Linked DNA regions of Homo sapiens. Each later gene encodes a partner of the first gene's protein in a complex. Each region holds a gene or a part of one and is shown on either strand. Other genes may lie near its edges. A codon is read from its position in the direction of its gene.

What was found.
Region 2: the proteins of SCML2 (region 1) and H2AJ are in contact, whole or in part, in a crystal structure (PDB 4EDU), measured with the Homo sapiens proteins. Residues at the interface, in NP_006080.1 of Homo sapiens: Asp182, Asn185, Tyr187, Leu188, Cys190, Phe206, Trp209, Phe213, Pro239, Pro240, Gly241; in NP_808760.1 of Homo sapiens: Leu35 (codon at 1,097), Arg36 (codon at 1,094), Lys37 (codon at 1,091), Gly38 (codon at 1,088).

Annotation. Positions count from the first base shown.
Region 1 is NC_000023.11:18,253,681-18,260,930, forward strand, and holds part of SCML2 (sex comb on midleg-like protein 2), read right to left. Parts: intron 6,612-7,250; coding exon 6,491-6,611; intron 4,568-6,490; coding exon 4,364-4,567; intron 3,351-4,363; coding exon 3,168-3,350; intron 1-3,167. UniProt on the Homo sapiens protein: Putative Polycomb group (PcG) protein. PcG proteins act by forming multiprotein complexes, which are required to maintain the transcriptionally repressive state of homeotic genes throughout development.
Region 2 is NC_000012.12:14,770,171-14,775,669, reverse strand, and holds H2AJ (histone H2A.J), read right to left. Parts: upstream 1,266-5,499; 5' UTR 1,200-1,265; coding exon 810-1,199; 3' UTR 646-809; downstream 1-645. Other genes in the region: H4C16 (histone H4), read left to right, coding at 4,586-4,897. UniProt on the Homo sapiens protein: Core component of nucleosome. Nucleosomes wrap and compact DNA into chromatin, limiting DNA accessibility to the cellular machineries which require DNA as a template.

The DNA.
Region 1 (7,250 bases):
GAAAGACGTGTATAGAATGTTCATGATAACACTATTTATAAGAGTACAAAACATAACACTATTTATAAGGGCACAAAACAGAAAGCACTCAAATGGATACATACCATGGTAGCATATTTATACAACAGAATATTATACAGCAATGAGAATGAATGATCTAACTATATGCAACAATACAGATGAAACTTACAAACATAATGATAGGCCAAAAAAGCTAGGCACAAGAGTAAATGCTGTATAATTCCATTTCTATAAAGTTCAAAAATAGGCAAAAGTAATATATGGTACTAGAAGTCAGGACAGTAGGTATCCTTGTGCGAAGTGAGGGGTAGTAGTGGATTAAAGGGGGTTTGACACATTAGCAGTGCTTCTAGGGTACTAGTAATAGCTACTTTTCCAACCAGTGACTGATTATACAGGCATGAAAATTAATCAAGCTACATTCCATGTATAATTTTCTCTATGTATACTATACTTCAGTAAAATGTCTTCAAAATTACTGCTAAAATATGCAAACACTAGATTTGTCAGAATCAAAGTCTCCTAAGAAGAGCACTCTATCTTAAACTATTTTTGAGTCACTTATTTTAAAAAATGTAAGAGAAATGGGATACTAGACGTGAAATCTTAGTAATAACCTCATAGCATTTATATGCAACTTCTTTAACTACAAGCTGACTTAAGAAAAACATAAGAGTTCCAACTCAAAGCCATTTTCAAATGGCTAAATTAAGCTTTCTGTGACAGAAAATTAATAACCCCTAAAATAATGTAAAATATGTGGATTATTCAGTGTATTTTTTCAAATAGTTACCTATTCTGATTATTTGATTAATCTGAAAATTCAAACATTTTGTGTTCAATTTAAAGAAGAATTACATTTTCTTTAAAATCTTTCAAAGAATGAGGCTTTGTAAATTACTGGCATTCTTAATGCTTTGTGTAAGAAATCAGGAAATTGGGCCTGGCATGGTGGCTCAGGCCTGTAATCCCAGCACTTTGGGAGGCCAAGGTGGAAGGATCACTTGAGGCCAGGAGTTTGAGACCAGCCTGGTCAACAAGGTGAAACTCCACCTCTACTAAAAATACAAAAATTAGCCAGGCGTGGTGGCAGGTACCTGCAATCCCAGCTATTCGGGAGGCTGACACAAGAGAATCACTTGAACCCAGGAGGCGGAGGTTGCAGCGAGCCGAGATGGTGTCACTACACTCCAACCTGGGTGACAGACTGAGACTCTGTGTCCAAAAAAAAAGAAATCAGGAAATTGTACTCTCAACATCTCCAACTCGTATTTTTCCCCAAATTACTCTTAGAAACAGAAAACCTATCAATACACAGACACCCCTCTTCCCACACAGGTGGCCCTTCCCTTCCTAGCCATCTTCCAAATTTCCTACCATTTTGGATGACCTCCTACCTCTCCTGAAGAAGGAAAAAAAAAGGATAATATCACATGAAAACATGAAACCTCACTCTTCCTCTTCCCCCTAGTTCTAACAGCTACCTTTTATTGCTCCTACTTCATGCCAGGCATAATGCAGGCTAAGAATTTACATATACTTTCTTTCAATTTCACAACCAAAGAGGTATCCACTTTGCAGATAAGGAAACTGAGAACTAGAGAGGCTCAGTACTTTGTCTATGGGCACATAGCTAGTTAACAGCAGGAACTGAATTAAAATGTAGGCCGGTCAGACTTTATACTCTTTCAGCAGAGATTACAAGGCCAGGATTGGAACCCAGGTCTGACAAACTCCAACACCTGTGCTCTCCATGCCACTGCTTCTCCATGTATACTTTTTGCAAGCATGTCACAGTATCATACCTTTATTTCAAAGGGACTCACTGGACAGCTACACCAGAGGGGAGAAACTGGAAAGAGGACTCCAGTTAGAAGCCTGCTTTACTAAACCAGAGAAGGGGTTAGTACAGTCTGAAGCAGGGTAGTAACAAGGAAATGGAAAAAAGGGGATGGATATGAGAGATGTCACTGAAGTAGAGGAGACAAGCTTTATGAAGAAGGGTGAGGGTAACCAGGAGGACCAGAAAAAAAAGTAGTAGCTAGAGACGTGGTACCCACGCTTCACACTTGAGTGGCACGTGAATTAGAATCCCTGGACTTAAAAAGATAGTCTGTGATGGTACTCTGTATTTCCAGAATCAGCAGCAGCTGGCCAGAAAACCATGCGGCAATAACACCTGAGAACTTCAGCTACTCTTAAAAGACCCACATACAATCCTGCCATGATCAATAGAACACAGTTAGCTTTCATGAGTCACATGAAAAAGAGACAAACCACTCCCAAAAAACAAACAGCACTTGCATAAAAGCTGAAAGAGCTTTCTTGCTTTAGGGATCAGAAGCAAGAAACCCACTTTTGGTTCTACAGGGCTATCTTACACCTACCCTTTTATTCAGGCATCGGTTTGGGGTTCTTATGGAAGAGAAGCAACCATGGTTCAAATGTCAAATTCAAGCATATCACAGGCTGGGTGTGGAGGCTCACACCTGTAAATCCCAGCACTTTGGGAGGCCAAGGCGGGAGGATCACTTAAGGTCAGGAGTTCAAGACCACCCTGGCCAACATGGCAAAACCCTGTCTCTACTAAAAATACAAAAATTAGCTGGGCATGGTGGTGGGCGCCTGTAATCCCAGCTACTCGGGAGGCTGAGACAGGAAGATCGATTGAATCTGGGAGGCGGAGGTTGCAGTGAGCCGAGATTGTGCCACTACACTTCAGCCTGGGGTGACAGAGTGAGACTCTGTCTCCAAAAACAACAACAAAACCGTATCATCATTTGTCAAACCTCAATGACAACAAAATTATCTTTATAGCCAATAGGCTCAACACGCTTTGCTAACTTCTGAGGATTATAAAAGTCAGTAACTTTAAAGCCATACTTCAGTCTAATAGAGAATGTTTAACTCTGTGAGGTAGTCAAAATGAAGCCAAACATAAGTAAGCCATGGGCTTTGATTCTGAAGTTCATTATGAATACAAGAAATTACTTTCCTATTTTGAATGAACAAAAACAACTATATGTTATACATTTCTAATTAGTTCACTGTGGCTAAAATGTTTACTTTGAGGAGAACACAAGGAAAAACAATTACACAAGATTCTCAAGTGAAACAGAAGTGTAAGAGTTTACATTTTCTCTCACCTGACTGATTTTTATCATGCTCTGCAGAGCTGTGAGTATGACCCCTGGAAGAACTAAAAGGCTGGCTACTCAAAAGGTTATCACACTGCAGACTGTGGCAGAAGTTCTCAAGAAAGCGAAGAGCAAATGATGCACTGTTCACTGGAGGGAGCTGGATGGAATGAGTTTCCCCATCAAAGGAGGCTATTGGGGGAAAAAAAAGGATGTCAGTAACCTCAGAGAGATGAGAAATACAACACTAATTAAAAAAAAAACTATCACCTTAGGAAAGGTATTATAAGTCTAATTTGTGTTCTTTGTAATTCATAAAGGAATGATCTTATATTATAAAAGCTCCTCTCAAACACAATAGCCTGTATTGGTAAAAACATCCTCATTTGAAAATACTCTTAAGTCAACAACAACAACAGAAACTCACTGATCTATGTAACACTTCCTTCTATTCCAAATATTCCATGGGTATGAATGTTGTGGTGTCTGATCATAGCCACCAACACTATCTTATTGCTTAGTGACTTCTTGAGTCACATATTTATTTAGAGCTTCTTATAGATAAAATATATTATCAGCCAAGGTACTCTGCCTATAGTGAGCTTAACACAGCATGTAAAACGAAGAATCTGTGACTTTTGTCCCAATTTACATTATTCTGACATCATTTGTCCATTTTAAAAGTAAACTTTTCAAACCAGGGCTTAAAGTCTATAAACATATAACTCCTATAAATGTTCTATTATACTAATATAATAAATATTACAGGCTAGGTGCGGTGGCTCACACCTGTAATCCCAGCATTCTGCGAGGCCAAGGTGGGCAGATCACATGAGGCCAGGAGTTCACGACTAGCCTGGGCAACATGGCAAAACCCTGTCTCTACTAAAAATACAAAAGTTAGCCAGGCATGATGGCGCATGCCTATAATCCCAGCTACTCAGGAGGCTAAGGTGGGAGAATCGCTTGAACCTGGGAGGTGGAGGCTGCAGTGAGCCAAGATCACACCACTGCACTCCAGCCTGGGTGACAGAGTGAGACCCTGTTCTAAAAAGATGAAGGAAGAAAGAAGAAAGGGCGGGGGAGGGGGAAGGGGAGGGGAAAGGGGAAGGGGAGAGGAAAGGGAAGGGGGAAGGGAAGGGGGAAGGGAAGGGGGAAGGGAAGGGGGAAGGGACTGAATTAGACAATGTATTAGATAAGTATACCAGTTATCACTTCTCCTCCACGATTATCTGGCTTCAGGTATCCAAAAACAGTTTTAGTTTCAAGGGCACAATCCACACAGGCCTGCACAATCCGGCGAAGCACCACATTCACCGGGCCCGGGCCGAAGTGGTCAGGCAGCTGCTGGATTCTCTTGGGATCCAGATGAGGGCCAAAGTTTCCATGTTTGTTTACATAGACACAGACTTGAGAAAAAATGCGTATGCATACATAACAATGAGACTGATTAAAAGAAATTTTGTGAAAACACTACATAATCAATTACTATATCCCACTATCCACTTCACTCACAGAAAACCTAAATATAGTTAATATCAATGATCATTTCTGCTACCTAAAAATATGTAAATATATTTTTACATTGATGCAAAGACACTGAACCCACAAAGAAACAATCAAAATGTTTATTCAATTTTTTAGAATCTTGTCCAAACTGATGATATAAAATCTACAGACATTTTAGGCACATCACAAAAACAATTCTTCATACATTCCCACATTATATAAAATGGCACAAAGACAGATGAATATTTTCATCTTTTAATTGTATACACAGTACAAGAATTTCCTTTCAAAACGGGTCATCTTGCTATGCTCTTTTTTGGACTGAATTTATTTTAAATCACCAATACTGCACCTCAATTATATTTTCTAAAGTAACCAAACAATTTAAGATATATATAACAAGTTATATTGATATATATTAATATTTTATTAATTTTAGGAAAATAAAAATGTTCCTTCTATATATACCAAGATTCATGGAAGAAAATTTTAAAATAAACTCTTTCCTTAGTATAATAAAAGCATATGATATAGAAGCAATTCATCTATAATCACATAAATGCCAACTTCCAATAATTTTCTTTACTGAGAATCAACAAATGCAAATCAATATACACTATAAAAACATGAGGGAAGCTGGGCGCAGTTGGTCACGCCTGTAATCCCAGCACTTTGGGAGGCCAAGGTGGGCGGATCAACTCAGGTCAAGAGTTTGAGACCAGCCTGGCCAACATAGTGAAACCCCATCTCTACTAAAAATACAAAAATTATCTGGGTGTGGTGGCACATGCCTGTAGTCCCAGATACTTGGGAGGCGAGGCAGAAGAATCACTTGAACCCGGGAGGCAGAGGTTGCATTTAGCCAAGATCACGCCACTGCACTCCAGCCTGGGTGATGAAGTGAGACTGTCTCAAAAAAAAAAAAAACAACAAAGAAACAAAACATGAGGGCACATCACTACCAAAAATAAAATAAATTGTCCCCCTAAGAAGCATGTTATTTTTAATCCATTAATTAATATTGCAAAACTTTCACACACACATAGTCTATATTTAGTATAAGAAAACTGATCAATCTCAGTTTTGCTCTGTTGAAATATACAATTCAATTTTGTGGCAACAGCCAGAGGAAGGACTGTTATCCTTCAGAAATGAAATAGCTATTAAAAATTCAACCCACGGTGCTGATGACATGGACAAATTCTACTGAACACAAGCGAAGCTAAACAAGGATTTCAATGTTTTATCTCCTTTGTGTTATATCCATTTAGCTAGTCTTTCCTGCTAATTAAAAATCAGAAATAATAAACTGAAAAAAATGAGATATGTTACAACAATCATTTTTAAAGTGACTTCTATTTTTAAAAAACTAAATTTACTTTTAGTCAGGAAAGAAAAATTAAAAGGAAAAAAAAGTCCAGGGAATAGGAGAGTGTAAGGGAGATAATTTTTAAAAGGCATTAAGAAAAGGTTTGAGGCAGCTTTGAAAATACATACCATACAAAAAGACAAATTTTGAAATGAGATAAAGGGAAAACAAGAATAGATTGGACAATGTAAATTGCATAAATCTTACTTAAATGGATAAAATACTTTAAGAGTATCTGAATTTTCAAGTGACTCATGTATTTAAAGACTTTTTCCTTAATGTAAAATGGAACAATCAGAATTTCAAAATACTTTAATATGAAAAATGCAAAGATAAATGTTTAATATTACCATCTTTTTCCCTTATTATTTTATTTCCAGGACTTCGAAGACACTGAAAATAATACAGGATAAAAGATTAGTAATTCTATACTATTTTTAAAATATGAATTTACCTGTAGACATCACTATTTTACATGGCCCAGAAGCGACATCTTTATATAACATGCCACGGTCTCTGGTCAGCGATTTTAGAGAAGCTGCAGATGTAGAACATATCACGGGCAAAGGTTTTTCCTGTTAAAAACAAAGGGAAAAAAACACAAGTATACAATACTCATTAATATATTCTTAGATAAGAAAGTCAGAAATTATAAATATCATTGGTTTATAAAATTATTAGTTATCAGAAGTCCTCAGGTTGGAAACTCCCGTGTGTGTCATGAACTGCAGAACTTTCCAAACTGAGCTTCTCAGAGGACCACAAACTGTCCAGGTAGGGGAGAAAGAGACCAAATGGCTGGGATTCCCTGTCCTACCCCTGCTCCAACTAATCACACCTTAGCCAAATTAGATTATTCCATAAAACATACTTTATTTTTTGAGGTTCCCTGTAAGACAAGTTTTTTCACATTGCTAAAGAAAAGTCTGTAAATCTCTAACCCAGAGCAATACCTCCAATAGAAAAAAAATCTCAGCAAGGCAGAGGACAGAGTTTATTTTCAGAAAGAAGTTGCTCATCTAGTTAGTCTTCGCTGTGTCTAACCCACAGTTCTCCATATTACATACAATAATTCTGACAAAATCACAACAGATGGCTTGCTAAAGTCTATACAAAATTATGCCTACTGCCTATAAGAACCAATGTTTCCTGAGCATTGTTAAACTTCACTAGCATTTTGTTTATTTTACATCAACTCTTGGGGTTTTCCAGGA
Region 2 (5,499 bases), on another chromosome or scaffold:
CATCACTTTAAAAGCTCAAGCATATGTAACCCACGACTAAAGGCGCTGCAATGTTATGCAATATGACTGTCAGGGGAACGAATTTCCAACCTCATGACTCACTTATTGAACGTTTCCTTCATTAAAAAAAAAATATGAACATAAAAGTGCTATATAAAGATATCTGATATCCAAAGCATGAAAGCACAGCAGCTACTAGGCTAGGAAGAATCTCAAGTTGACATCGTGCCATCAGAGCCACCCTTCCAAGACGGAAAGTTACTCCACTTTTTGAAAAATATGGCCGCAGACACTTCCTGCCCCGAGCTCAGCTCGATCCGACGGTATCTTCCCAGAACTTGGTCCTGAGTGCTCACAAACTGGCAGGAGAGCGAAGGCTCTGTGAAAGGGAAGTAAAAATAATTCCGAAGGAGGCCTCACCGCACCGACTCTGCCTCCCCTTTGCCCTACTGACAGCGAGGTGGCTTCCACCCTGCCCACCTCCAGGCCACCCTCCCCTGACGCCTCGAGGGTGACCTGCGGACTAAAGCCGTCCAGAGTGGCTCAAGCCCACCCACCAGTGCCTGCTCCAGGGGTTTCCCGGTCGCCCCCCTCCCCTGGGGCCATCCGACATGTCCCCGCGACTACACAGCTCTCTCGACCAAACGATTTTCACCAACTTTATTGGCTCCCGCCGGGACCCTCGCCGCCCACCTCCCCGCTAGATGTCACCGGCCCTCCATGACATCCAGCACATTCAAAAGCATTGCGGGACGACCATGAAAAGGGCCTTTGCTGGGGGAGCCAGCTCCCTGAGGGCGGCGTCAGGGTCATTTGCTCTTCGTCTTCTGACTCTCCGTCTTCTTGGGCAGCAGCACGGCCTGGATGTTGGGCAGGACGCCGCCCTGAGCGATGGTCACTTTGCCCAGCAGCTTGTTTAACTCCTCGTCGTTGCGGATGGCGAGCTGCAGGTGGCGGGGAATTATCCTGGTCTTCTTGTTGTCACGCGCGGCGTTGCCAGCCAGCTCCAGGATCTCCGCCGTAAGGTACTCCAACACCGCCGCCAGGTACACCGGCGCCCCGGCGCCCACTCGCTCCGCGTAGTTCCCTTTGCGCAGCAGTCTGTGCACTCGGCCCACCGGGAACTGCAGGCCCGCGCGGGAGGAGCGGGATTTGGCCTTTGCTCGCACTTTGCCGCCCTGTTTCCCGCGACCGGACATGATCACCTCTCGCCTACAACTCCAGAGACGGAGACAAACCGCTCTCGGCGTCCGGTACCGGAATGCAACGTACCGCACCCGAACTGCCTCTACAAACTCTTTACGGCCGCGCGGCAGCCCCTTTCCATTGGCTCTGGTGACCAATGACAGGCAGGCTCCGCTCCCAACTAGCGCTCTGGAAGAGAGACCGCCTCCTCCAGCTCTCTCCAATCAATAGAGCAATCTCCGAATCCTCATTTACATAGCCGCTCACATAAATAACGAGGCCAGCCGGCTCAGTCTTTGGGGACCCAGATGAATTTAGCGGTTACGGGTTTTCCACGACCACGCTCGCTTCCAAGCACATAAACTCGTAGGAAATAAGAAAACATGGTTGGAAACAGAAAACAATCCAGAAGAAGAGCTACAGGGGTTGTCCGTAGACGTTGCTATGCTAAGTGGATGTTCTCATATAATACACCGTACTACTCAGGTAGGTTTCTGTCTCCGCAGCCCGTGCTGCTTAGGCGAAACAACAGCCTGTCCGCGGAATTCTGCCTGCCCAGGACAGGGTCCGTGGACTGTTTCTTATACAAGCGCCTTGCCTCCAGCTAGCTACCCAACAGTGTAGAGACCACCCTGGTCTCCCCGCAGGGTCCTGCGGCTCACAGCCAGCCAATCGTTCACTTTTGAGTCTGAAGCTAGAGTGATGACCAGACGTGAATGCTTCCTGTGCTGACGGGAGGAACAAGCTCGCCTAGCCAAAATATCTTTTGTCTTTGAGGCTATGGGCCTGCAAAGAGCCACTAGGTTTTATTGGAGAGGCCAAAGTCTTGGCCTTGGCTTGCTCCCCGCAAGCCAGGGCGCCACAGATCAGCGGATCGGGTCCTCTGCGAAGACGTGGAGGTCCCCCGGGTCTCTTTGTAAATGAGTCCAGAGACTAAAGTCAGAATGGCAGCTTATTCTTATATACCTGAATTGTGGACCCATGCTTTTTGAAACAAAAAGAGTGTTTCAAGTGTTTTGTTTTAATTAAAAATTACTTTCTCCTAATTCATCGAGGTCATTTCATTTTTACCTGAACATTTTCAGTAACACAGTTAACACCGATACGTGATGTAATGTTGAACGCTTGCTTTTTAAAATAAACATTTTATGTGGATTCATTTACATTTAAAGTAAAGCAAATTTACCTTCTCACTATCCGAATAAAGATTTGACTTCATTGAAATAACATTTTCAAATATTTATGTATATGTCATTACTGCCTAGAACAATGATGAACCCATACTGGGGACTCAATAAATGTCTTCAGAGCTATTGTCATGGTTTAGGCGGTCTTTCCGGAGCCAGTCTGCCTCAGCCTAAATCCTGGCTTTACCACTGAGCAGTGACCTTTGATAAGTTATTTGACTCCTCTACCTGTATCAAAGTGTTTTGAAAATTAAATACGTTAGTAAGCATCCAATAACTCTTAGATATACCAAATAAATGGGCATACAAATCTCTGATGCAGTTTTTAACGAGATGTTCCTGGAATGAGTTCTGTAAACTAGCTTAAATTTTTGCCTGTATCTTGGGGAATTTTCAAGAGTTTTTAAAAGTATTACTATTTTAGACACGATTTTTTTTCTTTTATTCCAATAAGCAAGAGATTTCTAATTTGAAAATGTTCTAGTCTTGATTTCTTAGAAAGCTTAACTATAAGTAAGTCAACCGATTTTACCATTACAATAATTTTTTTTTTTTTTTTTTGAGACGGAGTCTCGCTCTGTCGCCCAGGCTGGAGTGCAGTGGCGCGATCTCGGCTCACTGCAAGCTCCGTCTCCCGGGTTCACGCCATTCTCCTGCCTCAGCCTCCCGAGTAGCTGGGACTACAGGCGCCCGCCACCACGCCCGGCTAATTTTTATGTATTTTTAGTAGAGATGGGGTTTCACCATGTTAGTCAGGATGGTCTCGATCTCCTGACCTCGTAATCCGCCCTCCTCGGCCTCCCAGAGCGCTGGGATTACAGGCGTGAGCCACCGCGCCCGGCCCCATTACAATAATTCTTATCTCTTCAAGATCTGATAGACTTTTCCTCTTCCCTCTGAGTCAAATATTAAAATCATGAGTGAAGTTCGACCATTCAGGACTTTTTCCAGCCATTCAAGACAGTGTTCCAACTCTTTTATCTTTAACAAAAAGTAAAAGAAAAATAAATACCTTTTGGGTTATGAAGATGGGCATGGATTGAAACAAATGTAAACTATAGGCATTTATAAATATAACAAAATTTTACCATAAAGTCTTCCTGCTGTAAAGGCTTATCTTCAAGACCAGGGACAAAGAAGCCCCACTTACTAAAATTCATTGCTCAGAATCCTAATTAACTACCTGGGAAAGACTTATGACTCATCCTCTAAATAACAGCTGCTTTTTAACACAGTAAAACCTTTAGAGAAGACAGGGTCCTGACACCTTTGAAGAGCGGTGACACCTTACAGAAACTTTCGTTTTTGTTCAGGGATTCTCTTGAGAAAGGAAGGGATTCAGAACCTCCTGAGGGGATTTGCAGTAGAAATCATTATTCCAAGTCATGATTGTGGCATCCATTGTTTTACAAGAACTTTGAATTTTTAAGTGGAAAATGTGAGATGAGAACCTGAGATTTGAATGACATAAGACATTGACAATATTTCAACTAAATAACCACAGGAAGTTACTTGGTTGAAAAGCACACAGGCTCTTGCAGGGCAGGAAAACCTGCAAATTGCGCAGAAGCAGCTGAAAGGGGAATGGCGGGGGTCGGGGGGAGGTGGGGGTGGAGTGTAGGTGGGGGACGGGAAGCTGCACTTTCTTTTTTCAATTGAAAGAATTTTAATTATCTGCAGGGCCGTAAAAGAGAAAAAAGTCCTCTCCCCCTACTATGTCTTCAGAAGACCCACGTGTGAAAAATTTTAAATTTTAAGTAATTGCTTTGAAATCTCGGATGTAAAGCTTTTCAGGTTTTTATAGAGTTTCATAGTAAGTCAGGAATTCCGTTTGAAAAAACAGAAGGAGGGAGGGACAGAACAAGGAACGTGCATAGGATCTGGCCTACTTTTATTTAAGCGCTGAGAAAAGGCAATATAAATTCTTTTAGCTCATACTGTTTTAACTTTAAAACGTATCACCATGAACCTTTCTCCAAACATCAGAAAAAATTTTCCCAAAAGAGCAAACAACAAAAAAATCAGGCTGGTTTCGCTGACTGCTTCCTGGACTTAACAACTATAGCATGTCTCCAGAGGTGGGGCCTAGAGCTCCGCCCACTTTTTTGATGTTTTCAAACAGGTCCGCATCGAGAGACTATAAGCCCTGGTCTGCGACTGGCAATCACAGTGGGCAGCCCGATTTTCTGCTGAGTAGGCGCTGTGATTTCAGAATGTCTGGGCGAGGTAAAGGTGGCAAGGGGCTGGGTAAGGGAGGCGCCAAGCGCCACCGGAAGGTGCTGCGGGACAATATCCAAGGCATTACAAAGCCGGCGATTCGCCGTCTCGCCCGACGTGGGGGCGTCAAGCGCATTTCTGGTCTCATCTACGAGGAGACCCGGGGAGTCCTCAAAGTCTTCCTGGAGAACGTGATCCGTGACGCGGTGACTTACACGGAGCACGCCAAGCGCAAGACCGTCACGGCCATGGATGTGGTGTACGCGCTGAAACGCCAGGGTCGCACCCTTTATGGTTTCGGCGGTTGAGCTGTCCCCACAGCTTCTCTACAGACTCCAAAAGGCCCTTTTCAGGGCCCCCAAACTGTCACAGAAAGAGCTGTTAACACTTCCTAGATAACGGGTAAATATCAACCCTTTGATGTCGCCTTCCGGATACCGGAAATGGGATATTCGCGGCCCGAGCATCTGCTCGGGATTAGACTTGGCGGGCACGGGGAGAACTAGACCTCAAGGAGGGGGTTCCGCCTGTGCTTAGGTACGACCCTGGAGGTGCCGCGCAACGCAGTAGTGACCTCCCAAAATCCAGACACCGGATTTTGTTTAGAAGAGTGCTTGTACAAAGCCCTAGTGTTAGAACTGGTCATGGTCTTCTAAGCGGCCGAGTCGTTGGCCCATAAGCACGTATCGGATGGCTTCCATGTAAATCAGGGCTTAGGTGACTTCCTGCTGGCCTTCAGGGGTGAGCGTCACGCGTCAAGGGCGGTTCGTGCGTGTGCAGGGCTTGCTAAGTCGCAGGAAATGGGAGGTCGCAGCACGCCGCTACCTGCAAGCCCGAAAGCTGAATGCAGCTCTAGTGTGGCGCGTAGTCTTACTGGGTACTATTTTACTTAATCGCTGACGTTGAGTGA